Regions from separate parts of the Homo sapiens genome. Here region 1 is linked to region 2. Evidence: fine-mapped expression QTL. A gene starts in region 2. The other region holds a variant in brackets. All regions are shown on one strand. Distances are from middle to middle.

Region 1 (4,386 bases), 9.3 kb after region 2:
TATCTCAGCCTCAGTTTTCCCACCTGTAAAATGAAGATAACATTAATTACCCATGAGGCAGACACTGTTGATTGCTAAAAAGTAGTCACTCCTGCTTTCTTCCTTAGTGCCCTGAATTTGTTTCAGGAGTCCCACACCCCTCAGTTCCACGTGCCTTGGGGGGAAATCCCAATTAGTCTGAGCTAATCTTAGCATCCCATCCCCCTTGCTAACACTTTGGGGATGGATCTGTGACCGAGTTCTGGTGAATAAGACATGGGAGTTGGGGGCTTGTTTTAGGAAATATTTTCATATTTTCTCAATCTTTTTTTTTTTTTCTTTTTTTTTTTTTTTGAGACGGAGTCTTGCTCTGCCGCCCAGGCTGGAGTGCAGTGGCGCGATCTCCGCTCACTGCAAGCACTGCCTCCCGGGTTCACGCGGTTCTCCTGCCTCAGCCTCCCGAGTAGCTGGGACGACAGGCGCCCGCCACCACGCCCGGCTAATTTTTTGTATTTTTAGTAGAGACGGTGTTTCGCCGTGTTAGCCAGGATGGTCTCGATCTGCTGACCTCGTGATCCGCCCGCTTCGGCCTCCCAAAGTGCTGGGATTACAGGCGTGAGCCACCGCGCCTGGCCATATTTTCTCAATCTTAAAACATGAGAGAGAGAGAAACAATTGTCTTTCTTTCTTTTTTTTTTTTTTTTTTTTTTTTTTTTTTTGAGACACAGTCTCACTCTGTCACCCAGGCTGGAGTGAAGTGGCGGGATCTCAGCTCACTGCAACCTCCACCTCTGGGGCTCAAGCGATTCTTCTGCCTCAGCCTCCCAAGTAGCTGGGATTACAGGCGCCTGCCACCATGCCCAGCTAATTTTTGTATTTTTAGTAGAGACAGGGTTTTACCATGTTGGCCAGGCTGGTCTCGAATTCCCGACCTCAGGTAATCCACCCACCTCGGCCTCCCAAAATGGTGGGATTACAGGCATGAGCCACCGCGCCCAGCCAAACAATTGTCTTTCTGTAGCTGTATGTGTGTCTGCAGTGATGATGGCTGGGGCTACAGCAGCCATCTTGCTATGATGAAGGCAGCCATTCAGAGAACTAAGTCAACACACTAAAGATGATAGAATGGAGGCCGGGTGCGGTGGCTCACGCCTGTAATCCCAGCACTTTGGGAGGCCGAGGTGGGCAGATCACGAGGTCAGGATATCGAGACCATCCTGGCTAACATGGTGAAACCCCGTCTCTACTAAAAATACAAAAAATTAGCCGGGCATGGTGGCGGGCCCCTGTAGTCCCAGCTGAGGCCGAGGCAGGAGAATGGCGTGAACCCGGAAGGCGGAGCTTGCAGTGAGCGGAGATCGCGCTACTGCACTCCAACGTAGGCAACAGAGCGAGACTCCGTCTCAAAAAAAAAAAAAAAAAAAAAAAAAAAAAAGAGAGATGATAGAATGGAAGGAAATGTGGAAAGAACATTAGTCTGGTGGCACAGTTCAGCAGCTGGATTACTCTGCCCTGGAGCCACCCACATCTGGACTATTTCCATCAATTCCTTCATTGTTCAGTGAGGGACCCCTGGCTCGATCCAGTGGAACCAAGGTTTCTGTGACTTGCAGCCAAAAGCATCCTAACAATCAACTTCGCAGGGTTGCTGTGATGACTAAATAAAGTAAAATTGGCCAGGCGAGGTAGCTCATGCCTATAATCCCAGCACTTTGGGAGGCTGAGGCGGGTGGATCACCTGAGGTCGGGAGTTCTAGGCCAGCCTGGCCAACATGGTGAAACCCCGTCTCTACTAAAAATATAAAAATTAGCTGGGCATGCTGATGGGCACCAGTAATCCCAGCTACTTGGGAGGCTGAGGCAGGAGAATCACTTGAACCTGGGAGGCAGAGGTTGCAGTGAGCAGAGACCACGCCATTGCACTCCAGCCTGGGCAACAAGAGGAAAACTCTGTCTAAAAAAAAAAAAAAAAAAATTGAAAAAGTGCCTGACAGGGTCTGGCACATAGTAGGTTCTCAAAGATTGAAGACTCTCCTGCTGAGATGTTCTGGGATGAATGCACGAATGACTATGAAGAGTGGTCCAGAGAACATGGCAGATGGTAATAAAGGTTAGAGCAGTTCAGAAGTGGGTGGGTGCTAGAACGATGAAGATGACAATGACGATGAAATTCAAACATTATGTTAGTAAATGTCCTAATGGAACTTCTTGGGGCTGTAACAATGGTTCTCCTTTTTACTTCTAATGCCTTTTCTTACCCGGCTCAGAATTAGACATTGCATATACAGGCTTTTCTAATTGTAAGTGGCCACGCTTGTACAATTAGGGTGGTCCTTAATTACCCTGGGGCATGGAAGCCCTGCTACAGGATAAAGGCAAGAGTGTACTTTTTTTTTTTTTTTTTTTTTTTTGAGACAGAGTCTTGCTCTGTCACTCAGGCTGGAGTGTAGTGGCACGATCTCTGCTCACTGCAACTTCCACCTCCCAGGCTCAAGCGATGTTGTGCCTCAGACTCCCAAGTATCTGGGATTACAGGCGTGTGACACCATCCGGCTAATTTTTGTATTTTTAGTAGAGACGAGATTTTGCTATGTTGGCCAGGCTGGTCTCGAACTCCTGGCCTCAAGTGATCCACCCTCCTCATCCTCCCAAAGTGCTGGGATTACAGG[A/C]ATGAACCACTGAGCCCAGACTTTAGCGTATAATTTGTAGCTCCAGGAGGAGCCAAGATTTGAAAGCAGAACCATCATACCCACACAACGTAAAGCAGGGCCTTTGACTTGCCAAAAGCACACCAAGTCCGTCCTCCCTGAGAGACCCAGAGAAGCCCAGCAGACCTCTCCAGCTCGGGTGGGGCTGCCTCTGGGGGCTGCCTGGCTTTTGGCCAGCTGACCAGGCCATGGAGTGTTGCTCCCTGCCAGCCCCACAGCCCTTTCGAACCTCGTTCCAGGAGAGCTCAGCCACACCAGTGTCTGCCAGACTCATGTCCGTCCAGCTGTGTGGGCGGCCCTGGCAGCAGGGGACAGGGCAGGGTTTGTGCAAGGACATTGTGGCACCCACAGCAGGGCGTGGGAGAGGCGGTGGCTCACTTCAGGGACGAGTCAGGAAGGAACGTGGAAGAGATGGGGAGCAGAAGCCACAAACTCAAGGCAGCCTCAGCTGCCTTCTCAAAGGCCGCCTTCACCTTAGAAGCTTGTTCCAGGGTCTCCTTTCCTGCTTGCCCCTCCCCTGTTGAGCTGGGTTCAGCACAGCCCTGCTTCGATGCTCAATTCTTTTTTTTTTTTTTTTTTTTTTTTGGCAACAGAGTTTCGCTCTTTCGCCCAGGCTGGAGTGAAGTGGCGTGATCTCATCTCACTGCAACCTCTGCCTCCCGGGTTCAAGTGATTCTCCTGCCTCAGCCTCCCAAGTAGCTGGGACTACAGGCATGCACCACCACGCCCGGCTAATTTTATAATTTTAGTAGAGACGGGGTTTCACCATGTTGGCCAGGCTGGTCTCAAACTCCCGACCTCAGGTGATCCACCCACCTCAGCCTCCCAAAGTGCTGGGATTACAGGCATAAGTCACCGCGCCTGGCCACTGACGCTCAAGTCTGTTCACCAAATCTTTATTGAGAATACTTTATGTAAGATGCCATATTCCTCCTGGCTAATGGTGGGGTGGGGTGAGAGATACCGAGAGCAAGATCAGAGTAGAAAGGACCTCAGAATGGCCTTTAAACTTGGGTGCCTCAGAACTCCAAAGCCCAAGTATTTAAGAAAGAAAAAAAGACTGCTGCAGTTTAATCTAGGGCAGGGATAGGGTCCTGTCCACTCTGCCTTGAGTCAGAGACTCCATGGATAACATCCAAACAACCCTGACCCAGACCAGGGGGGGATATAGAAGCCCAGAGAGGTGAAATGACCTCCCTCAGTCACACAGCAAGTTGGAGGCCCACTCAGGTTCAAAGTCAAGCCCAGTGCCTCGTCCATTGTACTGTCCTACCCCTTGGCACTTGTTTCAGAGATCAGCTGCGGAGATGGGGCGAGTCACCCAGGAACAGACAGACACACTTGCTACAGACTAAAGAGAACAAGTGGTTCTAACTCAGGATGGCAAAGGCTCCCCGGAAGAGGGGCAGGGAGCCGGGCCTAGGGCAGCATGGGCAGGATTGCTCATGGCACATGGCAGGGGTGGGGAGAGAGGTGGATGTGAGGAAGGAGGCAATTCCAGGCCTCAGAGAACATGATCTGCTAGCGCCTGAAGAAAGACTGGCAATCCAGAGAGCTGGGTTCCAGCCCTGGCTCTGCCGTGACAAGCCCCTGGGCCAGGGGCCTCCCCTTTGGGCCAGTTTCCTTGCATGTAAAATGGCAAAGAGGGTGGGCTAGTTGGCCCTACTGTGACATGCTAGGAAGCCTTCTCTCCTCCCAC
Region 2 (4,386 bases):
TCGTCAGGGTGAATCATGTCAGGGCTTTGCAGTGGACCTGCAGCCTGGGAGCTGAAGACAGGGACACGAAACATCCCTGTGTCTGGGAGGTGCCCTTCTGAAAGAGGCAGGAGATGGGTATTTGCTCTCACCAGGCTCCTCTCCTTCAGGATTTTTTTTTTTCTAATTCATTGCAAGATGGAGTTTTTTTTTAAAAAATTGGCACTGATAAAAGCCAAGGATAGAAAACTCCCCATAAAACACGGCCCCCCAAGGGAAGTGCAAAACCCATTTGATGCAAAATATAGATATCTTCACCCTGGATTTTTCCCCCTTTGCTTTACAACTCTGCAGACATCAGGTTAGCAAAAGGTAATAAATAGTCCTTGCACAGCAGGGTCTGGACTAGTGAAAACAGTTTACTGAAATTAATGGGCCTCGTTTGAACCAAAACCTCCACTTTGGAATTAATGCCAGACATAGTTTTCCTGAACTCTATCCAACCGCCTAAGCGGCAGACAATTTTCATTCTATTTGTGCTGGAAAATAAAGCCCAAGCCCTTGATCTCAGTGTAGATTTTCATTAAAAAAAAAAAAAAAGTACAGTGAATACTATGCCAATTTCCACTTTCTGCCCATAGAAGCCCTTGTGCTCTGGGCTGTGCGTGACGGTCAGAAGTTATCTGGTAAACTTTGCATTGAAAAGCATCTCCGAACTCCCTCCCCATCTGTGGCCTCACAGCTTTCACCATGACATCTGAGAGATTCAAGGAAAGCTCCAGAAACAGGCTTAGCTCTCAATAACAACCCTCTTCCCTACAGATCTTAGAAAGGCTGGATCTGAACAACGCTGCCTGCAAGACCTCCATTCCCACCCTAAATAAAGCGCCAAACCATCCAACCGAAACCCACCCCTCCTCCCCTGGTACTCAGGGTGTCTACAGCTCTGAGGCTCCCTTTATTTTTATTTTTATTAATGTATTTTTAAGGCTGAAAGGCACACACACCACACGCATTCACACCCAGTGGTTATGGGGTTTTGGCAGGTACGCGGAGACCCGGTGCCCCAGCTGTCAGTGTCTGATCCCAACCCCTCCTCCTCCTCCCTCCGTTATTTATTAATAAAAGCCTGGTCGTGGGCAGCCGGCGTTCTGGTTTTCATTGTACAGTCTGCACTGGTGACACAGGACATGTGGAAAATTTTGAGAGCACTGCGGTGAATAGTGTGGAGGGGGAGCGTGAGCAGGGGGAGGGGAGGGGAGGGAGGGGAGCGAGTTACTTTTTAGCTTCCGCTAAGTACTTGGCGGCTCGCCAGGCCCGGAGAATTGTGGGAAGCGAAAACCTCCCCAGTATAAACTGCCAGCTTTAAGCAGCCCTGACAGTTCTGCTCCTTCCAAACTTGGCAGCCGTTCAAAGTGCTCTTTCATTTGAAATGCTGGAAGCCTGCCATGTGCAATGCAGATTTGCTGTGCCTGTGCGCAGAAGGAACTGATAAATGCCGTTGCAGTTGCCATGGGGACAGGAGGCTATCAGAATGGCCTTGTGATCCGCAGCCTCTCTGCGCGGCAGGCTCTCGTTCTCCCCCTCCCGCCCCTCCTCCCTCTAGTCAGTGAGATGGTGAAATAAATGTTCTGGAAAAAGGTTAACCCTCCCCGCTCTGGTTCCGAGGGTGAGAGGAGGTTAACCTCTAAGCACTTCCTTGGCCTTAAGTGCCAGCCCGGAGCACAGGTGTCAGCGCCGTCCTTGGGTGGGTCACCATCCTCCCGCTCTCCTCTTTCACACCCCCAGCTTTCTTCCTGCTCCCTGGGGGCTTTCACAAAGCGGTATTTTTAATAGAGGCTTTTCAGCAAGCTCAAGTGTAAGTCTTTGAGTCATCAAAACCCGGATGTAAACACAGCAGCCCTGCATTCTGCACAGTTTGCGTGTATTTTATCTTTTTAATAATATTTAGCTGGCAACTTAAAACTGCAAGGATGCCAGATATTTTAGCCAGCCACTTACATCATGCAGCATCCATCTTGGGGAGAGTGGTGGCGGGTCCTTTCCTTGTTCTCTTGCTCCCTGCCGCCTACCTGAGACCGCAGGAAATCTGGGTCTTTCTGAAGGCATCTTCTTGTGGTGTAGTCCCCTTGGAACCGCGGCCTTTAGAATGAACATGACATCACCTTGGGCAACAACGACAGAGGGTGTGTTCCTGTAGGAGACAAGACACGGGGAGATCCAAGGTGAAACAGATCTATCATTTACGCTGCGCCAATTTCAGGTGTGTGAGGGTGCACAGTCTGGATCATCAGCCCCCCATTTAGCACGAACTGCCGTTTGAAACACAGTCTGATTTAATGTACAGAAACAAAATAGCACATTCAGATTTGGTATATTTTCAGGCCTGTAATGCCAACACTCCGGGTGGCCTGTTTAATGGGGAAAAAATGAAATATTCCACTCCAGCCCAGGCCTATGGAAACCAAAGAGGTTTAGTGATTTATTTACATTGGGGGTAAAAACGGTGAGCAGTATTCCTTCTCGGCTCGCTACTTCCTGAAGGTTTCCTGAACCTAAACATTCGTTAACATCCCAGGAAGGGAACTTATTTTTCCTGTGGCTTTCAATATTTTCTGCTAAATATATTTCGGCACACTGTTTATCTTGGGCTTCAGCTTTCAGACCTTTATGCACTTTTAACACCTTGAGGCTGTTTCACTGAAAAATGGTGTATGTTAATTAAAGAGGACTTTATGTGCTGGGCATTAAGGCAGGGGGGATTTCTGTTTTGATCTGTCTGTATAATGAGGGGCTTCAGGATGAAACACAAGTCAGAGGCCTGTTAGCTTCGTGAAGCCCTTTTGACAAAGCGGGACCTTGAATGTGGGCCCTTGTATTCAAACACTTGAAGACCACAGAATGTTGAACTGAACGAAACATTTCTTCCTAAGTGCATGGTGAACATGGAGGCCAGGAGACGAGAAAGACTGAAAATGCCCCAAGTTCCTGGGGCTTAGCTGCAATTTCTTTGAACTTGACTGTCTCTGGGTGTCTGCTCGTGATTGTCACGGCAGCTCTGGCCAAGGCGATGCACTCTGTCTCGCTGGAATTTCCTGATTCCAAAGTAGCCCCTTCCAAATAAATAATCAACAAACGCCATCTGCTTCACCTTGCCAGCAGGCACAGAGCTGAAGGGTTAGCTAAAACCTACAATTTTTAGGAGCAGTAGGCTCTTGAGACATTTCAAGATAGGTTTCGACTTGGAATTAAACTAGAGTTAGAGGCAGAAATCAGGTGATTCAGAAAGCAACCCCCCCTCCCTCCCGCCAACTTCCCCAGACAGTCCAGGCAGCTGGGTTTTTGGCTCTCACAGCTGCTAAGCTTTGGCAAGCCAAAAGCATATTTCGTGGTGGTGATTCCTTTCCCAGGTTGACGGACATGTTTCTGTACTGAGCACAAGGCATGTTTCCTGACCGTGTGTGAATCAGAGGCTGCATTTTTATCCAGGGCTTCTGGTGACAGTTTTAAGCTGGATGAACAAAGCAGACCCTGACATGTCCCTGTCATCAAGGTCAAGAGATACAGAATCTATCCTAAATGTTCGCCACCTCTAGCCCAGATGTATTATATTTATTTATTTTTGTTTTGTTTTGTTTTTTGAGGCGGTGTCTTCCTCTGTCGCCCAGGCTGGAGTGCAGTGGGGCAGTCTCAGCTCACTGCAACCTCCGCCTCCCGGGTTCAAGCAATTCTCTTGCCTCAGCCTCCCGAGTAGCTGGGATTACAGGCACGTGCTATCATGCCTGGCTACTTTTTTTGTATTTTTAGTAGAGACAGGGTTTTGCCATGTTGGCCGGGCTGGTCTCGAACTCCTGACCTCAGGCGATCTGCCCTCCTCAGCTTCCCAAAGTTTCTGGGATTACAGGCATGAGCCACCACACCCGGCTATTTTTTTTTTAATCATGCCAAGAGCAGCCACCACCCCACAAGTCAATGGATGCCCATGTTCATGTGTCAGATGTTACCCTTCTCTCTCTCAGTGTTTTTGTAGTGTTTGCTTCTTTGTTGGCTTTGGTGAGAAGATTTACAAAAGCCATTTTGGACCCTTGAGTGCCTTTCCAGATCGAGGCAAGCTCCAAGATTCCAAACAGCCTTGACCTCGTCTGTGTCGCCCCATTATAGCAGGGATGATAACCGGAGGGGAGTCCTTGGTGTAGCCCCTCCATACCAGGGCCCGGAGAGCCAGCTTCCCAGAAATCCATGGATTAGGAAACTCTGTCGTGGGCCAGTTCAGGAGCGGCAGGGGGAACAACTCCCTTTTGTTTTGTTGTCTAGCATGTGACCAGAATGCTGCCAGCTAATTTTAACCCCACCAAAGTACTGCTGGGAAAAAAAAAAAAAAAACTATCTTGCATCTGGAGAGAGAAA

What was found. PIP is the estimated chance that this variant, and not a neighbour inherited with it, causes the effect.
Region 1: its variant is the best candidate, but not a certain one, in a credible set for the expression of LINC02288 in whole blood (TOPMed, PIP 0.54).

What each region holds. Positions count from the first base shown.
Region 1 is chr14:77,048,399-77,052,784 of GRCh38, forward strand. All of the region lies in intron 1 of LINC02288 (long intergenic non-protein coding RNA 2288), which reads left to right. Among named protein-coding and RNA genes, the nearest start is that of LINC02288, 9.5 kb to the left of the region's middle. The variant A/C (reference allele first, on the strand shown) is at 2,649.
Region 2 is chr14:77,039,074-77,043,459 of GRCh38, forward strand. LINC02288 (long intergenic non-protein coding RNA 2288) reads left to right here and starts at 1,976. Exons shown (of 4, transcript NR_110554.1): 1 at 1,976-2,204. RefSeq lists a silencer at 1,149-1,338 and enhancers at 1,448-2,179, 1,455-4,386, 1,589-1,678.